Linked DNA regions of Homo sapiens. The protein of the gene in region 4 purifies or fractionates together with the protein of the main gene of each other region. This does not show direct contact. Each region holds a gene or a part of one and is shown on either strand. Other genes may lie near its edges.

Region 1 (7,453 bases), on a different chromosome or scaffold from region 4:
GCATTCCAGCCTGGGTGATAGAGCATGACTCTGTCTCAAAAAAAAAAAAAAAAAAAAAAAAAACCTCTACTAAAAACACAAAAACTAGCTGGGCGTGGTGGTGCACACCTGTAATTCCAGCTACTCAGGGGGCTGAGGCAGGAGAATCACTTGAACCAGGAAGGCGGAAGTTGCAGTGAGCCGAGACTGCGCCACTGCCCTCCAGCCTGGGTGACAGAACAAGACTCCGTCTCAAAAAAAAAAAAAAAAAAAGTGGATATCAAATTGCAATATTTAGATTCCACTGAATGTTTAAAATACTGAACAGTTTTAGTTTAAAATGTCAATATTTAAAATATGCTGTCATCCTTTGCAAATACTTAAACCTAATGACAAACAATTTTTGATGCCAACTTTTCAAAAGGTTGCTACAACAGCAAAGAAAGCTTAAAGACCACTGCCGCAGCCTCCGCACAAGACCCCCAAAAGGACAGGGCCTGAGCAGCCTCCCCAGGTCCTATGCTGCAGCCACCAGGCACTTAAGAGTTCTAGTCAACTCTGAGCCACTCCTTCATCTAGACCACCCCCCCTGCACCACAGCAGGAGCTATTTTATGGCTGCTCAGAAGACAGCAGGTGTTCAGGGAATGTTCGCCTGAGTGCATGCCTCTCCCGGATGGAGTGAATGAAGGAGATAAAAAAGGGAAAAGTTTAGGAAGCATCTCTCCAGCTCATTAAAGGAAGAGGCAGTTCTTGGGAAACACTGAACAGAAAATTCTGATTTCCAAGCCATTTCTTTCCAGAGTTTACAGGAAGCACTCCAAATGTTTCAGGAATATCAGCAGAGCCAAATAGAAAGGTGGAGGAAGGAAGGCAAAACAATTGTACTCCAGACTGAAAATTCGATGAAGGCAAGTGCAGAAGCCTCTCAGTCCTGTGACATCCTCGAGCCACTGATGATGCCAACCATCAGCTATCTACAACCAAAATGTAAGCCACTGTCTTAGATGCGTCTATTACTTGTGGCTACTCCTGATTTCTACAGTTCCAGCACTGTTTGCACCTTGCTTTCAAAAAATAATAATAATGCTATACTGAACTCATTTCCATGAAAAATATAAGGCTGAATTATCATTTCTTTAAAATATCTGAAAGCCCTAAGACAGAATGTGACAGAATGTGACTCGGGGGAGATAGGGTGGTTAATGAAGAAATGTCTGCGTGGGTGGCACTTGAATTGAGACTTAACAGATGAGAAGGAACCAAGCAGGCATGAGGAGCCAGGAGGCAGTGTCCCAGACAGAGGGAACAACAGGTGCAAAGGTCCTGAGGCAAGAAGGCAGCCAGGGGGGGCTGGAACAAAATTAACACAGAGAATGACTGGAGATGCACAAGGGGCCAGATTGTGCAGACATAATGCATGCTTACCCCTTCACAGGGGACTCCACGCTCTGAGGATCAGACTGAAAGCTGAAGAAAGTATCCGCAGATGCCACTAACAGCAGTGTGGAGGCTCGGGGCAGGAAGGAGAGGAGGAGCAGAGGGGACGGGCAGACCAGGCAACACAAGGACAGTGTGGGTTCCCAGAACTAAACAAGAAAGTCAACCAGCAGGGATCAGAGAGCAGGGTGATGGAGAAAACTAGAACACTGGCCAACAGCTTAAGCCATGGGAAGGGCTGAGATTAGGCAAGCTGGGGCAGGAGCAGGTCCCGCTCCAAGCTGTAACCCAGCCCCAAATTATTCTTCTTTCCCCTTTTTCCTCACCTTGACTGCCTCAGTGTGGATTCTGTGTAGCAGCTGTCATTGGCCACTGCTCACATACTACATACTACATACTCTGAGGCAAAGGTCACAGACACTAGAACTGCCCACAGGTCCAGTCCCTCCACACTACTGATGACAAGACCCTCAACCAAGCATTGCAAAAAGGGTTCTAAGGGGTTCCTCCACTGTCCAGGTGAAAAGAGTCAAGTACATCGAGTGAACTGCTGGGCTTAGAGATCAGACAAATCAGAGTTTAAATACTGTTTATGACATTTGCTAGCTGGGTTATCTTTGTATAGTCATGAAAGCCATCTATTTCAAACAGCTTGTTTGAAAATTAAATGCAATAAGGCATGGCAAGGTCAGTGCCTAATACACAGCAAAACACCCAATAAAGATCCAGTTCGCTCGGTTCTTCCCATTACTGAGGGGGTTCAAGGCAGACAGCCTGACAGTTCCACTACTTTCTGGCTATGTAACTTTGGGTAAGGCCCTTTCAAACCTGAGTCTTAGCTTCTCAGTGGGTAAAATGGAGATAACATTACTCATCTCGCATGGCTTTTAAAGTGAGGAGGATGTAAAGTGTCAAGCGCAGCTCCTGACACATAGTAAGTACCCAATACCCATCGCCTCTTATTATTGGTGGGTGTGACCGAGATGAGGAAAAGGCCAGGGACGGAGGTGCAAACCTATAAACGAAGCTGGGGTCTCAGCTGCTCGGGAGGCAGGGACTAGCAGCCAACCGCACAGTACGCCTATCCTCTTGAGAACCACTCACCTGGTGGTTCCAGATAGAGCCCTCTTTGCTGCGCTCGTCAGGGGTCAGACGTACGTACTGGCTCGTGAGCATAGTGCTGCCCTGGAAGTCCCAGAGGGGCATAGAGCTGGAACCGACCCCTGTGGGAAGAGACAGGTGCTAAGAGGCCACGCCAGGACTGGCCTCACCAGAGGCAGGAAACCCACAGAGATGCTCTGCTCAGGAGAAAGGGCACGCCTTCCCCTAGCCCTGTTCAGCCTCGCCCTCACTCTTCACTCATTCCCGCCCCAAGGGCTTCACCTTGGTAGGGCTTAATGAGCGAATGCTCCCGCTTGAGATGTTCACTGTTGCCGTCAGTTATATCCGCAGTCACAGACCCCAACAACAAAAGAAGAAAGAGAGGTGTAGTGGGGCCAGGGCCGGGGCCGAGAAGCCCAGGCCTTCCCAGGCACCGCCGGCCCCAGCCCCAACGCCAAATCCAGCCTTCCGCCGCCATTCTCCTCTCCTCTCGGCCACTTCCGCCCTAGAACTTCCGCCTTCCGGGGGTCCCATCTATTGGCCTCCGGCCGGAAGCTCTTCAACTTTACTGTCGCCAGGGAGTCAAAAAGCAAAGCCTCCGCAGCAGACGGGGCGGCAGCTGCATTGGCCGGGCAGCCTCTCATCCTGGTTGAGTGCAGTTTCATCTCCTTAGAGGCTCCAAGGCACACGCCGGCCAGCCCCAGCAATGGGTTCTTTCGAGCGACAAGAGCTGTAACCAGTCACGGAACAGCACGTTAGGCTTGCGAGCCAATGAGGAGCAGAGGGATGGTTGGAGCCGGCGGGAGCGCGAGGGCCGTCCGCGACTCGGGGCATGCTGGAATTTGTAGTTTTTGTCGGTCGCTCTAATGGGGCGGATTCGCGAAGACTAGGACGTCTTGGGCTTCTGGCCGCAAGTCCCGTCTCTGGAATAACCTTTTCTAGTCCTGGAGAAAGGAGCTCTGAATTGAAGGCGGAGTCCTGCATTCCAACCCTTGTCCTCCCCGGGTGGCCCTGGGCAAGCCTTTAAGCCGTGCCTGCCGTCAGGCGCCCCAGCTTCGCGCCTTTGGAGACTCAGAATTCCCAATTATTTGAGGGCCTCCACTACCCTCAACTCCTCAGGCCTAGTCGGGTTGAAGCAAGAGGAACAGACACAGATCCTGGCCTGGGACCCCAGTGATGACTGGAACTCATCCCTATGCAAAAGAGCGCAGTGCCTGGTACAGCAAGTAACGTCCATGGAAGGCCCAGGAAAGCTGTGAATCAGAGGTCGAAAACTGGTGGCCTGCAGCTGAATAGAGCTCTGTTTTACCTGCCAATATTCTAATAAATGGCTTAACTACCAGTATTTTAAAGTCAGAATATAGAGGCTGGGCGTGGTGGCTCACGCCTGTAATCCCAGCACTTTGGGAGGCTGAGGCCGGCGGATCACGAGATCGGGAGATCGAGACCATCCTGGCTAGCACGGTGAAACCCCGTCTCTACTAAAAAATACAAAAAATTAGCCGGGCGTGGTGGCAGGTGTCTGTAGTCCCAGCTACTCGGGAGGCTGAGCCAGGAGAATGGCTTGAACCCAGGAGGCAGAGCTTGCAGTGAGCCGAAATCGCGTCACTGCACTCCAGCCTGGGCGACAGAGCGAGACTCTGTCACACACACACACACACACACACACACACACACACACACACACAAAGTCGGAATATGTACATTCACATCAGAAATCCAGACTTCCGGCTGAGCTCAGTGGCTGAGGCCTGTAATCCTAGCACTTTGGGAGGCAGAGGCGAGCAGATTACCTGAGCTCAGGAGTTTCAGACCAGCCTGGGCAACACGGTGAAACCCCGTCTCTACTAAAATACAAAAGAAATTAACGGCGTGGTGGCGGACACCTGTAGTCCCAGCTACTCGGGAGGCTGAGGCAGGAGAATTGCTTGAACCCAGGAGGCAGAGGTTGCAGTGAGCAGAGATCACGCCATTGCATTCCAGCCGGGGCGACAGAGCAAGACTCTGTCTCTACAAAAAAAAAAAAAAAGAAGAAGAAGAAGAAGAAAAGAAATCCAGACTTCCGTTTTTTTACCCAAAAAAAAAAAAAAAGAAGCAGCAGCAAAAGATCTAGGCACACATTCCCACAACAGAACAATAGGCTGGAGCTGAATGGGACTGCCCCTCCACCAATGCCTTCCTCTTCTAAGCTGGTCCCCACCTGGTCACTCGTTTACAGCACTTGCCTGGCTCCTCCAGACATTTGAATCAATGACTCCTGTTGTAGATCACAGGGAGGGATGTTGGTTGCTTGCTCCTTTTAGAAACTGCCCTCTTGAATGAATGGACTTATTCAGGATTGAGTGCTGAATCTTTTCTTGGTCATATATTTTTCGTTCGCTTTTTTATTATTAAAGTCACACATTCTGGTCAGGCACGGTGGCTCACACCTGTAATCCCAGTAGTTTGGGAGGCCGAGGTGGGTGGATCACTTGAGGCTAGGAGTTCGAGACCAGCCTGGCCAACATAGCGAAACCCTGTCTCTACAAAAAATTAGCTGGGTGTGGTGGTGCACACTTGTAATCCCAGCTACTCAGGAGGCTGAGGCACGAGCATCACTTGCACCTGGGAGGTGGAGGTTGCAGTGAGCCAAGATCTTGCCACTGCACTCCAGCCTGAGTGACAGAGTGAGACTCTGTCTCAAAAAAGTCACACATTCTTGTGGTGTGTATGGAAACAGAGAGAGAACAGACATACAAGACACAACAAGCCAGGCATGGTGGCTCACACCTGTAATCCCAGCACTTTGGGAGGCCAAGGCAGGTGGATCACTTGAGGTCAGGAGTTCGAGACTACCCTGGCCAACATTGTGAAACCCTGTTTCTACTAAAAATACAAAAAATTAGCCGGCCATGGTGGCGGGTACCTATAATCCCAGCTACTCAGGAGGCTGAGGCAGGAGAATCACTCGAACCCAGGAAGCGGAGGTTGCAGTGAGCCAAAATTGTGCCATTGCACTCCAGCCTGGGCAACAAGAGTGAAACTCCATCTCAAAAAAAGAAAAGAAAAGAAAAGAAAAGACACAACAAAAGTCTTCTGCCACTCCCCTCGCAAGGAGTGTCCCCTTCCAGAGATTTATCTGCACCCATACAAACAAAAACATGCACATTCCATGGGACCTTCATGGGGCTGGGATTTTTGTCAGCTATGGTCACTACTGAATCCCTGGCATCTAGAATAGTGCTTGTCACATAGGAGGTGATTAATAAGTAACTGGTGAAAGAATGAATATTTGTTCTAGAACCTGGAATTGGGTCATGAAGAATGAGTAGGAGTTTTCCGGGAAAGGTAAAGGCATTCTCAGCAGAGAGAAGAGGAGCTGCAATCTAGGGAGGGATGTGTGAGAGCAGATGAAATACAAGTAGTTTGGAATGGCTGAGAAGTTGGAGTTGGGGGCTGCGGGGGAGCTGAAGCCAAAACTCAAAGGGCCTTCAATTCCCAAGTAAGGAACATGGCCTTTTCCCAGAACTCAATGGGATATTTCTAAGCATGGGAGTGACCAATGTGGATTCCTCTAGCTATGGTGAGGAGAAGAGATTGGAGCGGGGATAATAGGGAGACTGGATTCATCATGATCGGGGGAGAGAGGGTGAGGCCTAAGCCAAGGAGGTCTTCACAGAGAAGAAGGATCTGAAGTCCCAGCCAGAGACTAAATCAGGAACTGATGCCCTGTGGGCAGCCAGGAAGGGAGAAGTCGAGGATGGTGCTTTGTGGGTGGAGGTACTCCACCACTCTCATGGCATGGAGAAGACTAGATAAGGGCTAAGAGATGGGAACAGCCAGGGCTAGCTGTGGTGAAGATGTGGTCAGAGCTAGAACTGGCATCCATGGTGGAGAGAAGGGAAGAGGTGTCTCTGCAGGAGAGTATGAACTTCAAAGGGAGTCCCAGGCAGAGACTGTGACTGTCCTTTGGCAGGAAGAAGATGAGCTGTGGGCATCTGTGGTGGCCAAAGCCCAGTTCCAGGCACCCCAAGCACACTCACAGCTTAGCAGATCTCTAAGAGGATGTATAGCCTTGGGCAACTCACTTCTCTCTGAGCCTCAGTTTCCTGATCTGTGAAATGGTAATAATAAGCACCATTCACAAAGTGGTTGTGAGGACTAGGACTGTAAAGCCACCTAGGAAATGGCCCAGATCCATGGCACAGCAGACAGGAAGTCTTCACCCATATCACACACCCTACAACCCCCACAGGCACATTGAAACAGTCACACACCTTATTAAGACCACCATTGGCAATGGTCCAGGCCCAAAAGCAACCTCCACCGTAACCCCTTTCACACATCAAGTCTGACTGAATCTCTCTGTCTGTGTGGCCTGAAGCAAGGTGTCTGGAGAGAGGTGAGGCAGTGCTGGGAGAAGAAGTGTGTTAACTAGGGCAGTGCTAGCTGCTATAACAAATAGGCCCTAATGTATATAATGACCTGAAAATTTTTTTGATGTTTCTTTTTTTTTTAACTATTTTTACAAGGTTTGTGCATCTGTCAGGAGGCTCAAAAAATTTTACTTCCCACTTACATAATGGTCTGAAGCTGGTTTCCAGGTTGATGGGTGGCTTGCCTTCAGGCACTGATACACAGACCCTGCTTTTTCCTTCTTGTGGTTCCACAATCCCCTGGGCCTCCTCATCTTCTCTATCCATCCAGCTGAAGGAGAAAGAGGGAGGGTGCAGGGCACACACTTACTTCTTCAAAGCCTTGGCTCAAAAATGACACATGTCATCCCACACATTTTCAATTGGCAAGAAGTGGTCACATGTCCACATCTGACTGCAAGGGAACCTGGGAAAGTAAAGTTAGCCACGTGCCCAGGAAAAAAGGACATGAATTTGTGGTGAAGAGCTATTCAGTTTCTGCCACTGAAGAGTTCAGGTCACAGCCCTAGAAGGGGCAGT
Region 2 (7,873 bases), on a different chromosome or scaffold from region 4:
AATTTATTAGCCAACTTAAAAAACTAAATGTAAAAATAAATAAATAAATGTAGACCTTCCCTGTGCTCCACCTTTGGAAGTTAGTAATTCATTATATTATTCTTAGTTTCAATTTCAGAAAAATTGTTTCTTTCACAAACTATAGATTTACATACCTAGAATTGTTATATTTTAAATCCTAACCAAATACCAGGGTGAGAATCTGTTAGCATTTTTAAGATATGCATTCTACAAGCATTATTAGCTATATTTTGTCATCTGGGATATGGACTCAAGAACAGCATCTTTCCTTAACATGAAGCCAAGAAGAGGGAAGACTACTACTTCCATTGTGGCTCTTTTTCAACAGTGGAACAGTTAATTTAAAAGAGAAAATGTCTCCTAGCTTCTTTATATTGTCCTCATTACCTCACACTTCAAACCTTATAATCTGAATGCCAGAAGATAAATCTATTATAAAAATGGGTTTCTTTCTAACCTGACAGATATTATCAACCTCTAAATAAGAGATAATATATTTAGTAATTTATTAATAAGCTATTGGCCAACTGGTAATATCCCTGGGTTCTTAAACTTCTGACTATGTGCTCCAGGATCTCCGTTACACTATGTAACTCTCAATCCCTCACAATGTACTCTAAATTTTCTAAATGAGAAACTCCAGAAGCTGTAAGCGAAGACAGAGTTACAGAAACTCATTTTCTATTTCATATGGGATAAGGAGGGACCAGAATGATACAAACTAATGGGGAGAAAGAGCTGATTGGGGATATTATCAGGGCTAACTGACGTATAACACACTAAAGGCAGAGCAGCCATACTCTGCCAAAAAGAAAGGGCACAAATGGAAAAAGAAGCAATATAAAAACATTCAGATTATCTTTACCCTGCTAGGTGTTAACAGCCATTGATTCTTCGTGATGGAATTCTTCACAACAGGGGAGGCCTTGGTGAAAGCTGGGTGGAAAACCCTAGAAGGTAGTGTCCGGAGACACACCAGCCTTGCAGCCAACATGGTGGTGGTGCACCAGGTCTACCGAGCAGATCTGAAATGCTAGTTTAAAAAAAAGGCAAAACCAACCAAAAAAACATAAGTAAAACAACCTACTAACCAATTAAGAGAAGGACATATGAGAGTCAGAGTCAAGGAACAAACTATTTTTTAGTAGAACAGGAAATAAAGCGACCTTTTTAATTTTCAGCGATGAATTCTTTGCCCAACCATCCACTGTAATGCAAGAAACCCATCCCAGAGAACACAGCTGAAGATGGAGGAACAAACTAGGTTTAAGTCCCAGTTTGACCAATCAAAATAGATGACTGCAAAAATTATGTGTAACACAGAACGGCTGTTAATAACTGGACGTGATTACAGAGTCTGTGATGGTTTTTACAAATGTAGTTTTGGCTTAAGATTTATACCAGCATCCAGTGGGAAAATTTAAAAGAATCTACATAACTTTTGGGCAAAGGAATAGTGTCATCCAAAGAAGACATGAATAGCTCTTCAAGGTTATACTGCATTACAAAGCTAAAAGGTATTAAAAGAAGCCAACTATATGAATTTCAGCTAATCATACCAAATATTACTTTCCTTCAACATGAGATATAAAAATATTCTAAGTTAACCTATTCTATATGTCCTACTATAATGCGTAAAGGACATTTAGTCTTTCAAAGTAAACAAGTAAACTCAGTTACCAACCAGGTTTCCCTTACATTAGACTCCCTCGATGGTGTCTTCAAAAGAAAAGCATGCTAAAAACTGGATTATCTTAGCTCCAGGGCACATTATACTAGATGGGTGGTCAACCAGAAGTCAGCAGACAGTGTTTCTGTAATGCTAAGGTGAGGTGACTACAATAGGTCAGAATGAAATGACGAGTGTAAACCAACTGGGGCTACCAGCCCATCTCTGCCAATGATTTGTAGTGAATTCTAGGCAAGTGATATACTTCTGGGCCCATTTCCCCATCTGTAACATAAGGATTCCGTGTTCAGACTACAGCGTTGACCCTTAGACTACCTGCTTGAAAGTGCCCCGGATGCATCTTAAAATGTAGGCTCCTGGGTCTTTCTTTGCTCCTAATGATTCTACCCCTAGGAATAAGACCAAGAACGTGTGTTTTAACGAACACTCCAAAAGCTAAGAACTATTGCTTTAAGATACCCGAGCGTCCTCCGAGCTCTGCAACTGAACTATTAAGGGTCTTAAAATTCGGCACCCGGCCTTTGGGAAAACACCCAGCGCTTTTGGAACTTTCGTGCCATTACATCATCTCAACCTATGGCTGTCCTGTATCTTCCTCAGTACTCAGTCCACTGGTTGGGGCCGAAGAGGTCCAGCTCAGAGTGACCTCCATGTGGCGTAACAGCCCAGAGTGGGAATCCCGCTTCTGACAGGTTAGAAGTGACCTTGTGAGGAGTGTGGATCTCTAAGACTCAGATGTCGTTGCTATAAAATGGGGAAAATACTACCGACCCTAATCCAAGGGCTTATGCCTCCGTGAGCATTGATGAGTTTGGGTGCCTGGTCCCCGAGAAAGTTCACCCAGCCCGCTAGATTCAGATGAGAACCCGGCAGCAAACTTCCCTGTCAACCCACAACACCTCTGCCCCTGCCCCAGGTGCCGCTACCAGCGCAGCGGCTGTACGGCCTCGCCGCAAGGATGACTCAGCACCTTGTTGCCCGAGGACAGAAGCACAGCTACACTGAGCCCTTGCCCGCCTGACCAGGGCCTTGTGCCGCCGCCCTCTCCACCAGGTCACCCACAGGACTGCGACCCCAACGCGCAGGCCGGCCCTGACGCAGCCAGCAGCACCGCTGCTTCCAGCCCTTCCCCCCGCACCCAGCGGTCCCGTGAGGGCGGCTGTCAGGACCACCGGGGATCCCGGGCGCCCGCCGGCCAGCCGGAGCAGTACCTCGGTCCCCGGTCACCTTCGCCTCGCAGTTTCCCTTCCGGGCCCCTAGCGTCGGCCTCAAAGAGCACAGTTCCTCCGGCGCACTGCATGACGCAACATCGAAAGGACGTAAATAGTACGAGCAGCCAATCACGGGCAGGCCTCTGTCGGAAAAGCGGCCACACTGGGGGAGGCGGGGTTCCGGGTTGAGGAGGCGGGGTTCCAAATTGGTGGGGCGGGGCCAGTTGAGGATTGTTGCAGGGAACGTCATAGTCAGCGTCCATTTTGCGTGTGGGCATGGGAGTCGTCTCGGCCATCTTTGTTTTGGGCAGTGGAGCTCTGTTTTGCTTTTGTTTTAGTCGTTTCACTCGCCGCAGCTATAAGAATTATGTAAAAATTGAAAGAAAGTAATGTTAGAGTTAAAAATTATTCCGTTTATTCCGTTCCTTTTTGAAGGCCTTTTTGTCCCTTAATTTATCGTGAGATAAATATCTTTTCAAATGTGTCTGCTTCTGAGCCGAGTCATCCGGTTTCTGGGGTCTCATGCCAAATGTTAGATGGTGACATCCAGAAAAGATTTTTTCTAGATGGTTTTTTCATTGCTTTGTGACTTTCCCGCCCACATTTTCAAGTTTCACCCTAAACCTGTGTAATAGGCCTGATAACAGCCGCCTCTGCCTTGCACCCAGGATTGCTCTGAGGACTAAGATGTTTCCATTGCGCGTAATTTGATAGGTGAAGAGCTAGTTGTGGAATACGCGAGAGAGTTACTTTCTTTTTCACTCTCCCTCTATTTCAACAGATATTTACTGAATGCTCAACTTCGTACCAAGCTCTGTTCTAGAAATATATACAAATGAATCAGCCGGGCGTGGTGGCTCAAGCCTGTAATCCCAGTACTTTGGGAGGCCGCGGCGGGTGGATCACTTGAGGTTAGGAGTTCGAGACCAGCCTGGCCAACGTGGGGAAACCCTGTCTCTACTAAAAATACAAAAATTTGCCAGGCGTGATTGGTGCCTGTAATCTAAGCTACTTGGGAAGCTAAGGCAGGAGAATCACTTGAACCCAGGAGGCGGAGGTTCCAGTGAGCCCAGATCCCGCAACTGCACTCCAGCCTGGGCGATAGAGGGAGACTCAGTCTCAAAAAAAAAAGAAACCAAAAAAACAAAAACAAAAAAACAGCAAATGAATTAAACCCGTGTGTGCTACCACTATTTTAACAAAATAAAGTCCTTGCTCTGTGGCTTTACTTTCTGGTAGAGACAGAACATAGAAAAAATATAATGTGATAACTTAATACCATGAAGAAAGAGCAGATTAAAACCCTGAAAGGGTGATAAGGTGATTAACAACATGCAAAATTCATGAACCTTTATCTCCTAAGCAGTAGTTAATTGTGATTTATGATTCCTAATCATGTAAACCTTGACAAATATAAAGACTTGCCTTCTATGTGGATAATAAAAGAGTCTGGCAGCAACACAATTCTTATCTCTTTACGCTGAAAATGGCAGGAAAACACTAGAGAAATCTCACGAAACTGAACAGATCAAGCATGATCAGTTTAATTTTTATTTTGATCTATGCCCAATTTTATTAGCTAGCAAATAGGTTTTCTGTTTGGCTCCTTCAGTGATAGTCTTTTTTTCTAGAGCTTCTGTTATCAGCAAAGAGAAAGGATTTACAACACAGTACCAGAATAAAGATCTTGAAGTCAATGACTCAAGCTTTCTTCAAGATTCCTATTAAAGCTTATTCTCTCCATATTGGAAGAAAAATGTCTGATTTCATATTTTCCTTTCTCAAGTAAAGGGCTTGTATTGTTGTTTCCACAGGGGTCAAATATTTTGAAGCAGGGGAGGAATCTGGTCATATCATTGGGAAATATATGCTCTTGTGGCAGTGTAGGAAGGGAGAGGTTCCATGGACCAGGAGACCAATTAGGAATTTATTGTAGTTGTTCAACCAAAAGGCAATAAAGGCTGGAATTAAGCCAGTAGAAAGACACAGAGGGGTTTATGACAGAGATATATTGCTGAAGTGGAGTTTGCAGGATTGAATGGTCGGTCAAATATAGCTGATAAGAATGAGGAAGGCTCCCTGAGTAATCCTTCTGAACTGGGTGGATAATTTTATCATTAATTTAGCAATAGGATACAGGGAGAGATACAAGTGAGGGGAAGTAGATACATAAAACTTAGTTTGAAGTGTTTAATTGTTAAGTTCTCTGCTTCTAAGTTCTTAGAGTGTAGGATAGAGAAAAGGACAAGCCGGGAATGGTGGCACATGCATGTAGTCCCAGTTACTGGGGAGGTAGCCCAGGAGCTTAAGGCCGGCCTGGGCAACATAGGGTGATGCTGTCTTTAAAAATAAATAAGTAGGCTGTGTGTGGTGGCTCACGCCTGTAATCCCAGCACTTTGGGAGGCCGAGGCGGGTAGATCACAAGGTCAGGAGATTGAGACCATCCTGGCTAACATGGTGAAACCCCGTCTCTACTAAAAATACCAAAAAAAAAAAAAAAAAAAAAAAAAATTAGCAGAGCATGGCGGTGGGCACCTGTAGTCCCAGCTGCTCGGGAGGCTGAGGCAGGAGAATGGCATGAACCCAGGAGGTGGAGCTTGCAGTGAGCCGAGATCGTGCCACTGCATTCCAGCCTGGGCAACAGAGCGAGACTCCACTTCAAAAAAATAAAAAATAAAAAATAAAAGAATAAATAAGTAAATAAAAAGGAAAAGACATGATTCGTAAATTCCAATACTATATATATGTCACGGTTTTTATTACAGTCTGCTGATGAATTCCTTATTCTCCACTTGCTGGCTAAGTGAGATATGCTGCATTATAGTGGAGAAAACTCAGAGCCAGGACAAAAGATAAAATATTTTATTTACTTTCAGTTAAAATAAATGCTCTCACCTTGCCCTACTATGCTTTCCCATCAGAAGATGTGGTATGAATGAAACAGAGTTGGAAAGGGAGTTTGCTGGGGCTTTAACCTCTGCCCTCCCTGATGGAGTCTCCCAACAAAGGGAAGGTGCTTCTTCCTGAAAGGTTGCAGATGTTTCTGAATGTAGGGACCAATTGGCACCTGCTTCTCATGTGGTTGCTAAGTGGCAGACAACAGAGCAGGTAGGAAAGTTACAAGATCTTCCCCATCTTGGCCTTGTTTTCCCTTGGAATCCCTAAGGTCTAGATAAACACAAGAATGTGATTGTGAGCACGCACCTGCTTGTTTGCACCCTTCGAGATGCTGCTCAGTAGTGAGGCGACACTAGAAGTATGTGTGGGTGAGATGCCCAGATGGGCACCAACAGACCATTTAGTGTATGACAAGGCAGAGCCATTTGACTCTGCTTGGGTGAGAGATCAAACTGTGCCAACTTCAAAAGTTATATCCTGCCAGCCACAGAAAGACAATGAAGCCATGGGGACTACTCCCTTTAGATTTTGCTGAACGGCAGCTGCATGACAATGCAATGACTAAGAGGTAGAGTGGAAGGACAGAGAAGCTACACTTTTTCCCCTCCTGTTTAATGTAAATGTTTCTAATCCAGTTGTGGCCCAGGAGAGGAGAAAGGACTTTGAACTCCAATGTGACTGATGGTAATAAATCCTGAAACTGACAGACAAATTGTCAGACTGTTCTGAGCTTGCAAAATGGAATAAATAGGCTGTCTGCTCTAAACTGACTGGGGCCTTGAAAATGACATCGATGGCAGTTTAAAGAAAAATGTAGCTCAATTTTGCATTCACCTAACTGACAATATATACCCCTCACATATGTGCAACTAAATGCTGTAAGTGGGCCAAAGGACAAGGTCATTAGTGGGGTAGTATCTGTGGAGGGACAGATATTGGCAGAAAATTGAGACTAGTGTCATGCTTTCTGGTCAGTCTTCCAAGAGGAAACCAACACTCAGAAATTGTAGTAGCTTTTCTTAAGAAAAAGGTATTAGGTTGTTCTTGCACTGCTATAAAGAAATACCCGAGGCTGGGTATTTTATAAGAAAAGAGGTTTAATTGGCCCATGATTCTGCAGGCTATACAGGAAGCATAGTGGCATCTGATTCTGGGGAGGCTTCAGGAAGCTTCCAATCATGGCAGAAGGCAAAGAGGGGCAGGTACATCACATGGCAAAAGGAAGAGCAAGAGAGAGAGAGTTGGCGGGGAAGGGCCAAACACTTTTAAATGACCAGATCTCCTGAGAACTCACTATCTCAAGGACAGCACCAAGGGGATAGTGCTAATCCATTCAAGAGAAATCCACTCCCATGATCCAGTCACTTCTGTCCAGGCCCCTCCTCCAATAACGGGAATTATAGTTCAACATGAGATTTGGGTGGGGACAAATATACAAACTATATCAAAAACATAGCAAGGTAAATGGTAGATCTGGGTCTAGAACATGCGATGGAGGCAAAAGCTGGTGCTTGAGGGATTAAAAAAAATCTCTCTTTTAATATATAATGCATGGATATGCAGACAGCACATGTGCTAGTAAAGCTATGACATTAAGATGTCATGGGGGAGGGAATCAGGCAAAAGCATCTGAAATGAATTCCTAGGGAAGCAATAATAAAAAAAGGCTGAGGAGCACTGGCCTAGAATACAGGATTTCTGTGATTCACTCTGATATCAGGCTCATCAGAAAAATTTTTGGTGTTACCCTCTATGACTCTATCAGTGAGTTGTTATTTGAGGTGATTTTGTGATCTTGAAGGAAATGAAAATATTTCACCCCCAAATATATTTTCTTGACATTGTTCAAGATGACTATTCAGAAAGGCTGGAAATAAAATAATAGCTAAAAAGCTGTCTTTTGTGGGAGAGATTAGCATTTGTAGAAAAAGTCTGCATTGATAAAGTCCTGCATTCTCCGAAGGTCTTCTCTTGTCTGATCTAGGAAAGACTGAGAGTCCGGCACCATAAAGGTCTGAAAGAAACATTTACCATCTTTCTCTCTGAAGGCTA
Region 3 (7,020 bases), on a different chromosome or scaffold from region 4:
ATGCCTCACCCTCCCAAGTAGCTGGGACTACAGGCATACACCACCATGCCTGGCTATTTGTATTTTTAGTAGAGACGGGGTTTCACCATGTTGGCCAGGCTGGTCGTAAACTCCTGACCTCAAGTGATCCACCCGCCTCGGCCTCCCAAAGTGCTGGAATTGCAGGCATGAGCCGCCCCACCTGCTCTCTAATTACTGTTATGTCTCTAATTATTGTTGTTTGTGTGTTTGTTCTATGTTGATAATTTTACTTATTTAGTAGATTACTTTCCTTTAAGCAAAGAAAACTTCTTCATAATCTACTTTTTCTCTCCATAGATTTGCCTGTTTTGGACATTTCATATAAATGAAATCATAAAATATGTGGTCCTTTATGACTGTCTTCAAAGCATAATGTTTTTATTGTTTTCTTGTAAGATATCAGTAGTTGCTGTTTTTATTGCTGAATTGTATGGCTATACCACATTTCTACCAAGTTCCTTATTAGCTCCAAAACATTAAGATTTCCTAAAAACTTACCTAAAAAGATCAAAAATGGTCAGGTAAGTATAGGCAGTTAAAGCTGCAAAACAACAAAAAAATGATTAAAAGTATTACTGACCCCTCTAAAAAAATACAGCAAGTTACCAAAATTATTTCTACCAGGGGTATCCATTATCAAAAAAACTTTTGAGTCACGGGCCAACCTCATATATTGGCAGTTATCTAGTAAATCTGATAAATATATGTAGCCAAAGTTCGTTGGTAGAAAAGCTTACTTCCCAACCTGATTTCTCCATTAGGAAAAATGAAGCAATGAATGTTCAAAAGCCCTGTTACCATTTTTCTGCCTGCTTCTGTAATCTCAGCGCTATTTCAAATGTATTGTTTGAATAACTGAACAAAAGAACAATGCAATAAAAAACATAAAAAGATATAAGAAAAAAATTACAGAATTCCCTTTTTAAGGAAAAGCCAACAAACCTCAAAATCTAACTTACAAACTGCATAAATTAAAGTTTTAATCTATTATATTAAAAACAAATCTCCAGCCAGGCACGGTGGCTCACGCCTGTAATCCCAGCACTTTGGGAGGCTGAGGCGGGTGGATCATAAGGTCAGGAGATCGAGACCATCCTGGCCAACATGGTGAAACCCCATCTCTACCAAAACTACACAAATTAGCCAGGCGTGGTGGTACGTGCCTGTAATCCCAGCTACTTGGGAGGCTGAGGCAGGAGAATCGCTTGAACCAGGGAGGTGGAGGATGCAGTGGGCCAAGATCACACCACTGCACTACAGCCTGGCAACAGAGTGAGACTCCGTCTCAAAAAAAAAAAAAAAAAAAAAAAATCTCCAGATAGATTTAATGATTTTTCAAAAAATAACAGCTTATTTAAAATGAAAATGGCCAGGCATTGTGGCTTACGCCTGTAATCCCAGCACTCTGGGAGGCCAAGGTGGGTAGATCGTTTGAGCTCAGGATTTTGAGACCAGCCTGGGCAACATGGCGAAACCCCATTTCTGTTTTAAAATATATTTTAAAAGGAAAAAAACTTAAAAAAAAATTACAATCCTAACAAATGAACAAAAGTTTACAGTTTACAGGGAAGTTTTAAATATAGTCCCTTATTTAAATCATTTGAGTTATATACATTTCAGAATAATATATTCTATGTAAGATATACCTTTATTTCCAATGAGAAAAATAAAAGTAAAAATAACAACTCCATAAAAATACAAAGGTGACATACCTATACTATTAGTAGAACTGCACCACATAAGCAGGAAGCCAGTACATATCAAGTTTATTACACCAAAGAGCAGTATCTTCCAGGACTGTGAAAATAAAAATCACTCTTATGTGTACAGAAGTGATAAATTTCACGGGGTCTGTTCAAGTTGCTACAATTTATACTCTGATATTCAAAGGAATAAACATAACTTCCTTCAAAAAGTCTGTGTCACACTTTCTACATCTACCAAAATTGTCATCGGCTAAGTTATTACAGTATACAAGTTTAAAAGAATAGTTCCAGAAGGAGAGTTGTTCAAGAGAAAATAAATTCTGACATAGAAATTCTCAAATAGTTGAGAAAAATACACATACATATGCATATCGTTTTGTCTCTATAAGTACATATTATAGAGACAACGATGAAGCAAATGGGGCCAAATGTAAGCAACTGGTGAATCTGAATAAAGGGCATGATGATGTTCCTAAAAGTTAGTAATCTTGTCCAGGTGCAATGGCTCACTCCTGCAATCCCAGCACTTTGGGAGGCCAAGGTGGGTGGAGGTCAGGAGTTCAAGATCAGCCTAGCCAACATGGTGAAACCCCGTCTCTACTAAAACAAAAAATCAACCAGGTGTGGTGGCAGGCACCTCTATTTCCAGCTACTTGGGAGGCTGAGGCAGGAGAATCGCTTGAACCAGGGAAGCAGAGGTTGCAGTAAGATGAGATTGTGCCACTGCACTCCAGCCTGGGCGACAGAGCGAGACTCTGTCTCAAAAAAAAAAAAAAAAGTACTGACTTTGGCTGTTCAACATCAACCAAGTAAGGTGAGAAATAAGGAAAAATCTTCATTTTGGCAACACAGAGATTTTTGGTTACCTTGTAAAAGCTGTTTATGTGAATTAGTGGGCACAAGTACCTAACTGGTATGTGTTTAATAAAGATGAGGAGAAGAGAAGGTGAACACAATGTACTGATAATTCTTTCAAGTAGGTTTGCTACAAAAGGAAGCTGAGAAATGAAGCAGCCCTGAGAGTGGAACTTATAACATGTAATTACGATGCAAGAAAGAGGAGAATGATGCATGATGCAAGAAAAACAATGATGTAAGAAACAGAACAATTATAGGGACATCATCTTTCAGTAGGCAACAAGTGAAAGGATTGCCTTTATAGAGAAGAACTGAAAGCTTGTCCAGAGAAATAGGAGGGAAGGCGGAGTGATGGCTGATGTGCTAATGATAGGATGTAGAAGTTTTCTTCTGATTACTTCTTTTCCCTTGGTGAAACAGGAAGCAAGATCATCAGGTTAGGGTGAGGATGAAGAAGGTATTAGAAGCTTGAGGATAGAAACGAAAGAACATCGTATGAAACAGCCATCTAGGAAATTGGAAAATTGAATGAACAAAGGAAATATAAAATGAAAGAGCACTAATAGGCAGCACTTAATAGGCAGCACTAATGGTCTGTCTGATCATGAATTCAAAGTGAGACCAGTCGCATGGTTTTGTTTCTCTCAGGTTACATTCAGTTGCTTAGATGCAAGTAGAGTAGAAAGAAAGTGAACTTAATGAAGGTTAGGGATTTTCCAGGAATTAAGACAGAGGGAAGGGGAGCACAAAAGAGTTGAGAACATATAAAAGAAAATGATACTAGCTGGGAGTGGTGGTGTACCCCTGTAATCCCAGCTACTCAAGAGGCTGAGGAAGGAGGATCCCTTGAGCCCAGGAGTTCAAGACCAGCCTGGATAATTTAGCAAGATTCCATCTCAAAAAAAAAAGAACAAAAAGGAGGGAAATGATAATGATGGAGCATAGAATCTAAGTTGGATAAGGAAGCAAATGAGGATAACGGAGTTGAAAAATAGTGAAAATATGGCAGAGTTTCAATTGGAGTGCCCATTGGTACTGCTTATTATTGTTTCATTGAAGCTGGCTTTACTTAAAAGTCATCAAATATTTACTGAATGTTTATATTGTACTTCTATAAAAAGGTGAGCAAAATAGAGACAGTCACTTCCCTCAGAGAGTTTATCATTTAGACAACAATGAGAAGCATGAAACACAGTAACTAGAAGGTTTACATTGGTGGCCTAAAAGGATGGCAATTACATCTTTTTATTTACAGTCTCAAAACATATTTTTCTTGCCCTACATTAAAAATGAGAAAACATGGGCCAGGCACGGTGGTTCACGCCTGTAATCCCAGCACTTTGGGAGGCCGAGGTGGGCGGATCACCTGAGGTCGGGAGTTCGAGATCAGCCTGACCAACATGGTGAAACCCCATCTCTACTAAAAATACAAAAAATTAGCCGGGCGTGGTGGCCCATGCCTGTAATCCCAGCTACTTGGGAGGCTGAGGCAGGAGAATCGCTTGAACCCGGGAGGCAGAGGTTGCGGTGAGCCAAGATCATGCCATTGCACTCCAGCTTAGGCAACAAGAGTGTAACTTCATCTCAAAAAAAAAAAAATAAATAAAAGAGAAAACATGGCTTTAGACTGGATCCATTTAATTTTTTGAAAACTTAATAACAAAAAGCAACCACAAAACCATTTTTCTTTAAAACACTTCAGAATTAGAATCAAAACTTTAACAGAAGCTTCCTACCAAAGTAAAACAACTTAACACCAAACAACTGCAATTTTACACTAAAAAAATACTTTTCCAACATAGAAAAATGAAAACAGTGTGGCAGGATCAGGAGTGATTTCTATTGGCCTTAAAAATTATCTTTCTTCAATGTTATAATGTTGTTTGTGCAATAATTAAAATTGGGGTTAAGGAATAACTTACCCTTCGGTCAGCTGCTACAAGTCTAAATTCCCGTAACAACTTGCCAAAAAAGGATCTTTGTGGTTTTCGAAAGAGATGAATTGTCCCCTTTCAAACAAACATATACAAATCAGCATTTAGATATTTAATCATCTTCAGAGTTCCTATGATATGATATAGTGGTTCCTATGATATAAATAACCAATATTTATTAAGTACTCAATATACATCAAGCACTTATTCTAGACACTTTATGTGTATTTATGGATTTAATATTCACAATAAACCTATGTGGTGGAGACAACTTTTAGTAAGTCATCCAAAGTCACAGAGCTAGTAAATGGCTGAGCAGAAATTCAAACCCAGGCTTTTTAGCTCCAGACCACACTCTTTATTTTTAAATGGATAAGGCAACTTGAACTGAAAAAGAAATAGTTTGCCAAATAGCTCTACTGGAAATTTCTACTGAAAATTCACCTAATTAAAGCTATATATGTGGTTGTGCTTGGGGCTCATGCCTGTAATGCCAGCACTTTGGGAGGCCGAGGCAGAGGGATAACTTGAGGCCAGGAGTTTGAGACCAGCCTGGCCAACATGGCAAAACCCTGTCTCTACTAAAAATATAGAAATGAACTGGGTGTGGTGGTGCACACCTGTAATACCAGCTACTCAGGAGGCTGAGGCGTGAGAATCTCTTGAGCCTGGGAGGTGGAGTTTGCAGTGAGTCAAGATTGTGCCACTGCACTCTGGCCTCGGTGACAGAGTGAGACTCTGTCTCAAAAAGAAAGTAAGTTCAGGCAACTATTATAGTAAAACCCCTGAGATTCTCTCTTAGGCATTCAGTCAAAGTATCTGACATCCTGGCTAGTCTCCCTGGCCCCTGCTAGTGTATAGTTAGTTTGGGGATAGTAAAGATAGGGCTCACCAATGAGAGAGGAGACCAAGTGGCAACTAGAGGGGATTAACCACCCAAGTTTAGGAAATCACATGGGAAAGCCTTAGCAGAACAGAGAGTTCAAACACATATGAGAAATTAACTTATGAGAAAAGCAGTATCCAATATCACTGGGAGAAAATATAAGCCAGTCAATAAATGGTATTTTGATCAAGGTAATGTTTCACCCTTACCGTTACTCCTTACTCTGTTGTTATTTTTAAAAATAAAATACAGATTTATAGAGTACTTGACTGAAGAAAGTCTAGATGTATTATTTTATAATCTGGGAGTTGGGGGAAGCCTTTCTTAATAGGGCATAAAACCCAAGAAGCTCTAAAGGAAAAAAATTGATTGATTTTACTATATAATTTCATGGGCGAATGTAATACCCTTAAGGGGGAAAAAAACTTTAAGAAGGTCAAACTGAAAAAAAACTATAATTCACAACAGACAATAGGCCAATTTTCTCTATACACAATGAGCTTCCACAAACTATTTTTAAAAAGATGAATAACCCAGTTTTAAAAGTTACACATTTATAAAGCTGGCCAAATCAGTACCTGCTCATTATTCACATTTGCTTTTGCAACTTTGTATTGTTAATGTGAAATCATGATTTCTCTTGATACTTTAAAAATAAAAATGGTATGCCTCTCCCTATACACAGTCACATCCATCTCTTGAACCTCAGTTCCAGCTGCTTTTGAGGAGGACAGTCTGATTTTAAATATAGGCTACACGGCAAACAGGATATTCACTCTGTCGCAGCCCCATTCTGCGGTGAAGGAGTAGCTGGGACTACAGGTACCCACCACCACGCCCGGCTAATTTTTTTTTACCTTTAGTAGAGACGGGGTTTCACCGTGTTAGCCAGGATGGTCTTGATCTCCTGACCTCGTGATCCGCCCGCCTTGGCCTCCCAAAGTGCTGGGATTACAGGCGTGAGCCACCGCACCCAGCCAATAAATATATCTTTTTCTTGGCTGGCCATGGTGGCTCATGCCTGTAATTCCACCACTTTGGGTGACTGAGTCAGGAGGATCAGTTGAGCCCAGGAGTTCAAGACCAGCCTAGGAAATATACTGAGACCCTGTCTCTACAAAAAAATTGAAAAGAAAAAAATTAGCCAGGCATAGTGGTACATGCCTGTAGTCCCAGCTACTCAGGACACCAAGGTGGAAGGATCGCATGAGCCCGGGAAGTCAAGCAGTGAGCCAGGTTCACACTTTACTCAAGCCTGGGCAACAGAGCGAGACCCCATCTCGAAATAAATAAATAAATACATAAATAAATGTACATATGTATAAATATTATATATATGTGTATGTACATATGTATATATATTCTTTTCTTAAAGAATTATGTGTGAGTTATTTTGGTTCCAAAGATTTAAAAAATTCTCCTTAATACTGTTATTTTGGACATCTTCTGTTTAACCCTAGCCAACTTTAAGTTTCAGGTTAAGAGAATCAACAAGGTTTCTAAGAGGCAGAAAGCCACTTCTGATGCCATCCTGACAATGAAAATAAAACAAAAATCCTAATGTCATATCACTCTTCCCAAAATTATATTGGCTCGCCATTGCTATCAGAATAAA
Region 4 (7,020 bases):
GGAAGAATGAGAAAGAGGGGGTTGCAGGCACAGGCCCGGGGAGAATGAGAAAGAGGGGGATGCAGGCACGGGCCCAGGAAGAATGAGGAAGATGGGGACAGAGGCACAGGCCCAGGAAGAATGAGAAAGAGGGGGTTGCAGGCACAGGCCCGGGGAGAATGAGAAAGAGGGGGATGCAGGCACAGGCCCAGCCACCCGAGCCCAGCTCCCGGAGTGGCCAGGGGGTTAGGGTTAGGGTGTTATGGTTACGGTGTTAGAGTTGGAATTAGGGTTAGGGTTGGGGTTGGGGTTAGGGGTCAGGGTCAGGACAGAGGCTAAGTCGGGGTGGGGCTGGAGCCAGAGAGGCCAGCACGGGCCCAACCGAGGCACTTACCGATGGTGCAGGCCACGAAGTATACCCTGGAGGACTGTACCTGGATGTCAAACCTGTGGCAGTAGGCCACCAGCAGCCCTGGGGGAGGCACAGGGCGGAGGCTTACTCGGGCCCGCAGAGCCTCAGAGCAGGGGCTTCCTGGGAGCGGGCGGGCACCTGAGCACCTGTGGGCGCCGTGGGCCTCTCGCTGCCTGGTGGCTGCTGTCATTTCACAGACAGGCCACACGCTCGCTCGGGACAGGGCTGCCATGACTCTCAGTGGGTAAACTGAGACCACAGTGAGAACAAAGTCCAGGCAGACACACCTGGCAGGACCCTGGGGACACTGAGGCTGCGAGGGTACAGTCTCTGCCTTCTGCAGCAACATGAGCTCACTGGGACCCGGGATCCAGGCCCCAGCAAGGACCCCTGCACAACCCCGAGCAGGATGGGGTGAGGCTGTCTGCAATCGGGGGGCCTTCCCCGCTCCCTAGGAACAAAGGGGGTCCCTACCCCACCCAGGCAATGCCCTCGCTGCCCAGGCACCCAGGCCTCAACGGCCCCAACCTGCCCGACTCTGACCCTCAGGGCTTTATCTCCAGCCGACGGTGTGCGGGCCACTCACTCCCAAAGGCAAACCTCAGCCGCCCGGGGCCCTGCCCCACAGCGTGGACCCGTGTGCTCCACCCGCCTCAGTACCTGGCACCAAAATGTCTCCGAAACCCAGGAGGGAGAAGGGCCGGTCACACAGGGCCAGAGGTGAGGAGTTCAGCCTGGGCACCTTCAGGACCATGGGCAGCTGCAAAGACGGGAAGAGGACAATGTCCTCCAGGACCCTCACCCGGCCGCGGGATGCCTCGAGCCCTATCCGCTCCGCGCAACACCTTGACCCATGGCAACCTGAGACCCTGCAGTCAGAAGACACACCTTCTCACGGGTGGCTGAGTCCGAGGGCCCAGTGGCCACCTCCACCATGATGCTGCTCCCACTCTGCACAGAATGGGGTTGAGTGAGGGAGCGTGGTGATGGGGTGGGGGGGCAGGGGAGTGGGGTGATGGGGCGAGGGGGCAGGGTGATGCGATGGGGGGGTGCAAGGGGCAGGGTGATGGGGGGTGATGGGGCAGGGGAGCAGGGTGATGGGGTGGAGGTGAGCGGGGTGATGGGGTGGGGGGCAGGGGAGCACGGTGTGGGGTGGAGGGGGACGAGGGGGCGGGACGAGGGGGCGGGGTGATGGGGGGGGTGATGGGGCGGGGGTTGCGAGGGGGCGGGGGAGCGGGGTGATGGGGTGGAGCAGGGACAGGCAGTCGCCTACCTTGGTCAGGAAGGGCGTGATGAACACGAAGAAGATGTCGTAGAGGAACAGCACCAGCAGCAGCAGCGTGCAGGCCTGCGAAGCCCACGGCTGAGGGCGGCCCCCACCCCGGCCCGTGCCTCCCCCACTCCCATCTCATGAGGCCCAGCGCCTCCTCCTGGGAGGCAGCCTTTAAAGGAACCTGAGCAGAGCGTGCCCAGTGCCAGGGACGCACCACGCAGGAGGAGCTTTGGAAGCAACATCAGGTAGGGATTTACGGGCAAAAGTCAGGCTTTTAGAGTCTCCACGTAACAGGAAGGCGGGGACGGGAGGGCGGAGGCCTGTGCCACGCAGGGCCGGCTCTGGGGATACAGAGGGCCATCCTGGGCATTCAAATGCCGCTTGCTTGGGGTGCTGTGGGGCCCTCACGGGAGTGCAGCCGCCTGGGGCTTGACAACATCCCCGCACTCCCGGTACCACCTGAGGCCAGTTCCTCCAGCCCTATTCAACCACTCTCACCACCACCTCATCTAGACATGAGTTGCCCCTGCCGGGAACCGCCCCGCAGCCACCCACCCAGGCCGCCTCAGCGGGGGCTTTGGGACCCAATCTTCAAGCCCCACCCTTCACAACAGGCCTAGGCGGCCATCCCCAGGGCAGTGAGCAGGAGCACAGACCTGCAAGGACCACAGCCCCACACGGGCCAGGCTAGGATGAAGGGCCCCCACTACCCATGCTGCCCCGCAGCCGTGCCCTCCCTGCACTCACCTTGAAGGTGGGCAGACGGATGGTCTTCAGCATGTAGAGGCAGAAGGCGATGCCCAGGGCATCCTGGAGGACCCAGGCCCACCTGCAAGACAAAGCAGCATCCTCGCCGGGGCAGAGGCTGGCTGACCACCCAGGACGCCGCCTCCCACGAGCCACACAGGGCCCTTGCTCTCAGCCAGCACGCAGCCCCACTGCCCTTCCACCTGCCCAGGGGATGACTCTGAGGACCCCAGACCTGTGGGAGGACCCCTGCTGTTACAACTCCAGCAGGGCTGGCGGCACAGGCCCCACCCCAGGGCCCACCCTGCGGAAGCAGGTAGAGGAGCCCACCACTCGGCAGCCAGGACAGTGGACACAGGCCTGGCCGGCTGCGTCTCCTCGGTCGCTGTCCCCAGATGGTGGGGCCAGGACGGTGGACACGGGCCTGGCCGGCTGCGTCCCCTCAGTCGCTGTCCCCGGATGGTGGGGCCAGGATGGTGGACACGGGCCTGGCCGGCTGCGTCCCCTCAGTCACTGTCCCCGGATGGTGGGCGTCACGCTGTAGGCAGGGGTCACAGGCTGTAGGCAGGGGCCAGGCAGAGGGTGCGTGCGCAGGAGGGCTTGGGCACTGACCCCTCCAAACTGTTTTTATTTTGTTTTTGAGATGGAGTCTCACTCTGTCACCCAGGCTGGAGTTTGGTGGCACGATCTTGACTCGCTGCAACCTCCACCTCCCAGGTTCAAGCAATTCTCCTGCCTCAGCCTCCCAAGTAGCTGGGATTACAGGCACACACCACAATGCCAGGCAAATTTTTTTGTATTTTTAGTAGAGATGGGGTTTTGTCATGTTGGCCAGGCTGGTCTCAAACTCCTGACCTCAAGTGATCTGCCCGCCTCACCTCCCAAAGTGCTGGGATTACAGGCATGAGCCCCCGTGCCCAAACTGTTTATTAAATTAAAACTTGTGCCACACCAGGTTTCCTCAAAGAACCTCTGGGTCCACAGTGGGTGGGGCTGCCATGCGGTTGGTGCCCTGGGGCAAAGCACAGAACTGCCTCCTGCACAAGGCCACGGCCCCTGCAGCCAGCCGCAACTTCGGCTCTCTCCTGGCCCCACGAAGCCCCAGAGTCCCCTCCCCGCTGGCCCCTGCCCCCAATGCAGGCTCTGCCTGTCACTTGCTGGACGAGTTCCCCAGCGTTCCTCAGCGTCTCAAACATCAAAGGCTTCATTTGAAAATGGGATAAAAACATCTCCAGGGCGGGGCGGCTGCTAACAGCAGAGGCCTCCATGGGAGACGCTGGTACAGCCAATTCCAGGCGCCACGTACTTCAAGCACCCAGAGAACTGCGGCCAGTTATTTTTTCTGATTTTATATTATTTCTTAAATAGGGCGTCTCGCTTGTTGCCCAGGCTGGTCTTGAACTCCTGGGCAAAGTGATCGTCCTGCCTTGGCCTACCAAATGCTGGGATCCCAGGCGTGAGCCCCTGCGCCCAGCTGACTGAGGCCTGCTCTAACTTCATGTGACGGAGCGAGTTTCCTGGCTTGGAAATAACTGAAAAGATTCATTTTCTCTTTGTGTACAAAGGATTCAAAATATTTTCACATCTTCCTTCTGCCAGTTAAACGTGCCGTGGCTCCAATACACACCAAAGCCAAGCGTACTTGGCTGCCTCAGGAAGGCTGGGAGGAAGTGCCAGATGGTATCAGCGACAGCGGTGGGGACCGGGCGGGGACGGGCCAGCTCTGTCCTCCCAACACGGCACCAGGCACTCGGCCTCATGGGGGAGGCCCGGCCAGCGGGAGGCAGCCACAAGTCCAGGCCACGTGGGAGGTGAGCGTGGGGGGAGCAGTGCCTGCCCCACCTCCACCACTGCTCAGAAGCCGCAGCAGTCATGACCAAGAGGACCGGGTGCCCTGGTGCCCACACCCTGGGCCTCGAACCTGCGGCGTGCACGTGGGTGCCAGGAAAGGGACAGCGGGGGACAGACTGTGGCCCTGGGCAGCGATGCCCCACAAAGGAGTCCCATCCAGGCTGGAGGACGTGGCTCCTGGCCACAGGGGCTCCGGCCTCTCCTCCCGGATTCCAGTCAGGGTTCCCATGACACCCGGACAAACCCCAGGTGAAACGCCCTCGCAGCCCTGTCAGAGCAGCCCGGGGCCAGGGCTCTTCATCACGCGGTGCTGAAGCAGCTCCAGGCTGGGGCGGCCTCCAGGGAGGGCAGGGAGTCAGGGCCCCAGGAGCCCTGGTGCACCCGAGGACTCCGCTGCCCGCCGGGGCCCGGGGGAAGCAGCACTTACTGGTCCTCGTTGCGGAAGACGCCCCACACCACGCTGACGGCCACGCAGAAGAGCGCCAGGAGCAGCATACGGGCCTGCGGGCGCTTGTGGAAGTAGGGCAGGCTGTTGTTGGGGATCCTGGGGGGCACGGGGCAGTCAGAGCCAAGCCCACCAGCTCCCGGCCTCATCCCACTGCCCACCACCCTTGGGACCGGCCCAGGCACCCCCTGCAGAGTGGCAGCCCCCACTCTGTTGTCCTCATTAAACTCCACATCCCACACGATGACAACAGTAGGCACCCCAAGGGCAGGGCAGAGCCCGACCCGGGCAGGCGCTGGGGGCCACGGGCTGTACCCACAGAGCCCCTCGCCTGCGCTGCGCCCCTTCGCCCGAGGCCCTGCCTGCTCCAGACCTCCCACCTCCTCACCCAGGGACGGCAACACAAAAAGGTCTCCCCCTGGGCTAGCCCCGCTTCCTAGACCCAGGTCTGACTTTGTTGGAGACCCCCCAGCAGCTCCCTTTACCCCTAAGAGCCAGGCCAAGCTCTGGGCTGTGGGGAACCTTCTGGGTTCCCCGGAGAACCCTGGGGAACCCAGGGTTCGGCCTGCGACCTGGGGCAGGGTTCCTGGGGACAAGGGCACCCTCCCCCCGCCACCCCTGGCGCCTGGCTGCTGGTGGGCTCCATTGATAGCTCGCCCAGACTCCGCCCTGCTCCTGGGCCTAGGAGCCCCAGGCCAGCACTGAGGGAGCGCCTGCTGTAGACTCTGAGCAATATTGCACCATGGGGGGCTATGGGGCGGCAAAGGGGCCGTGGCCATCACCGCACAGAGTCAGGCACGTCGGGGCCAGCAGGGCAGACTCACCTGCACTTGCCGAAGGGCAGCCGCCGCACACAGGGCGCCAGGCAGCTGTAGAGGCCGGTGGCGGAGGCCAGGCAGAAGATCCCGATGACCACGTACACTGCAGGGGCAGGGCCGTGAGGCCGGGGGCCAGGCCCGCACGCCACCCTCCCTCCGCACGGGGCGGGCTGCATCTCCACGCCGCGGCCCACCCGCCCGGGGCCGCGCACCGAGGAGATCGTAGAAATAGTAGAGCAGCACCAGCATGGAGCAGCACATCACCACAAACACGCAGGTCATCACCGGCGTCACGTCCACCGCCTCGTCCTCCTGCTTCTCGGGCCCATCGTCGCGCTTGTGCTTCATGTACCTTCTTGGGAGACACCATGGGGTCGTGGGGCCCTGGGGCCGGCTGGCCGACACGGGGCTCGGGAGCCCACAGCCACCCGGGGGAACGGGGCAGAAAACCCGGGAGCAGGAGGGGACCCGGGGGGGACTGAAGTGCAAGGAACCGCCCCGAACGTCCCCAGGGCAGAGGAGACCACACAGCAGAGGGTGGCAGGGCCCGCGTCCCTGGGTTGAGCTGGGGTGGCCACTAGGCCGGGCCAGAGGCTGGCGTGTGGGCAGCAACCGCAGCTTGGATCTGCATAAAGAGCCCTGGACATGGGGCCTCCCCAGACCCAGGCGGCTCAGCAGGAAGAGGGTAGCTGGCCCCAGCCACCTGCCCAGCCCTGCACCTGCCACGCCCGTACCTGCCACATCCACACCTGCCCAGCCCTACACACCCACCAGGTGCCCGGAGCCCACCCTGGCAGGAAAAGAGACTGATTCTGTCCCAGGACCTCCTGAGGAAGAAACGAAGGGCTCCACGGGGCGAGCCGTGCCTGCCGAGGCCAAAGCACTCACTGCTGTTCTGGAAGACTGGCCGTCCCGGCCCGTGTCAGAGCCGCCCGACCCCGTCACAGCACACGCACGATGCGAAACTCACTTCTTCACGTCCCGACTCCCGGCCCAGTAGCCGCCGATGGCGACGGTGCCCACAGCCATGATGAAGATGATGACCATGTTGTAGTCCAGCACCGGCTCCTTAGGCGCATACAGCGCCGCCCTCACCGTGCGGCCGAAACGCTGCCTCAAGGAACACACCGGAGGCAGGCGTCAGAGCCACCCGCCAGCCATGGGTCGACGTGCAGCTGTGGGCTGTGGGGCTGGGGCTGGAGACCCTGGCCTGCAGGGGCCACGCCTCACCCACCACCCTGATCCCACCAACTGAGGCACAAACCCCCCCGGCAGCCAGCCCGAAGCCCCCTGCCCCATCTCCTCGGGAGCGTGGGTCTGAGCCGGCGCAGACCTACCGTGAAGATGTCCAGCATGTCTTTGTAGCTGAGCAGGGCCACGGGAATGCCAATCTCATCATACTGCGTCTTATTACCCCCCGGGGGGACCTGGGGGCCCAGAGGAGGGAGCGGCAGGCATCACCCGCAGCAGTGGGTGGGCCCCCAGCTCTGTGCCC

The links.
Region 1: the proteins of SPPL2B (region 4) and LMAN2 purify together in Homo sapiens (co-immunoprecipitation; 3 studies listed by BioGRID and IntAct, with this or other methods). This does not show direct contact.
Region 2: the proteins of SPPL2B (region 4) and GHITM purify together in Homo sapiens (co-immunoprecipitation; 3 studies listed by BioGRID and IntAct, with this or other methods). This does not show direct contact.
Region 3: the proteins of SPPL2B (region 4) and SLC30A6 purify together in Homo sapiens (co-immunoprecipitation; 3 studies listed by BioGRID and IntAct, with this or other methods). This does not show direct contact.

Annotation. Positions count from the first base shown.
Region 1 is NC_000005.10:177,348,651-177,356,103, forward strand, and holds the start of LMAN2 (vesicular integral-membrane protein VIP36 precursor), read right to left. Parts: upstream 3,019-7,453; 5' UTR 2,998-3,018; coding exon 2,802-2,997; intron 2,642-2,801; coding exon 2,523-2,641; intron 1-2,522. UniProt on the Homo sapiens protein: Plays a role as an intracellular lectin in the early secretory pathway. Interacts with N-acetyl-D-galactosamine and high-mannose type glycans and may also bind to O-linked glycans.
Region 2 is NC_000010.11:84,134,643-84,142,515, reverse strand, and holds the start of GHITM (growth hormone-inducible transmembrane protein), read right to left. Parts: upstream 3,008-7,873; 5' UTR 2,923-3,007; intron 1,055-2,922; 5' UTR 1,016-1,054; coding exon 887-1,015; intron 1-886. UniProt on the Homo sapiens protein: Plays an important role in maintenance of mitochondrial morphology and in mediating either calcium or potassium/proton antiport. Mediates proton-dependent calcium efflux from mitochondrion.
Region 3 is NC_000002.12:32,168,861-32,175,880, reverse strand, and holds part of SLC30A6 (zinc transporter 6), read right to left. Parts: intron 4,595-7,020; coding exon 4,508-4,594; intron 1,819-4,507; coding exon 1,734-1,818; intron 563-1,733; coding exon 520-562; intron 1-519. UniProt on the Homo sapiens protein: Has probably no intrinsic transporter activity but together with SLC30A5 forms a functional zinc ion:proton antiporter heterodimer, mediating zinc entry into the lumen of organelles along the secretory pathway.
Region 4 is NC_000019.10:2,338,684-2,345,703, reverse strand, and holds part of SPPL2B (signal peptide peptidase-like 2B isoform 2 precursor), read right to left. Parts: exon of another isoform or gene 6,953-7,020; coding exon 6,863-6,952; intron 6,640-6,862; coding exon of another isoform or gene 6,636-6,639; coding exon 6,496-6,635; exon of another isoform or gene 6,414-6,495; intron 5,881-6,413; coding exon 5,738-5,880; intron 5,629-5,737; coding exon 5,532-5,628; intron 4,807-5,531; coding exon 4,690-4,806; intron 2,494-4,689; coding exon 2,412-2,493; intron 1,740-2,411; coding exon 1,665-1,739; intron 1,343-1,664; coding exon 1,280-1,342; intron 1,152-1,279; coding exon 1,052-1,151; intron 452-1,051; coding exon 374-451; intron 1-373. UniProt on the Homo sapiens protein: Intramembrane-cleaving aspartic protease (I-CLiP) that cleaves type II membrane signal peptides in the hydrophobic plane of the membrane. Functions in ITM2B and TNF processing.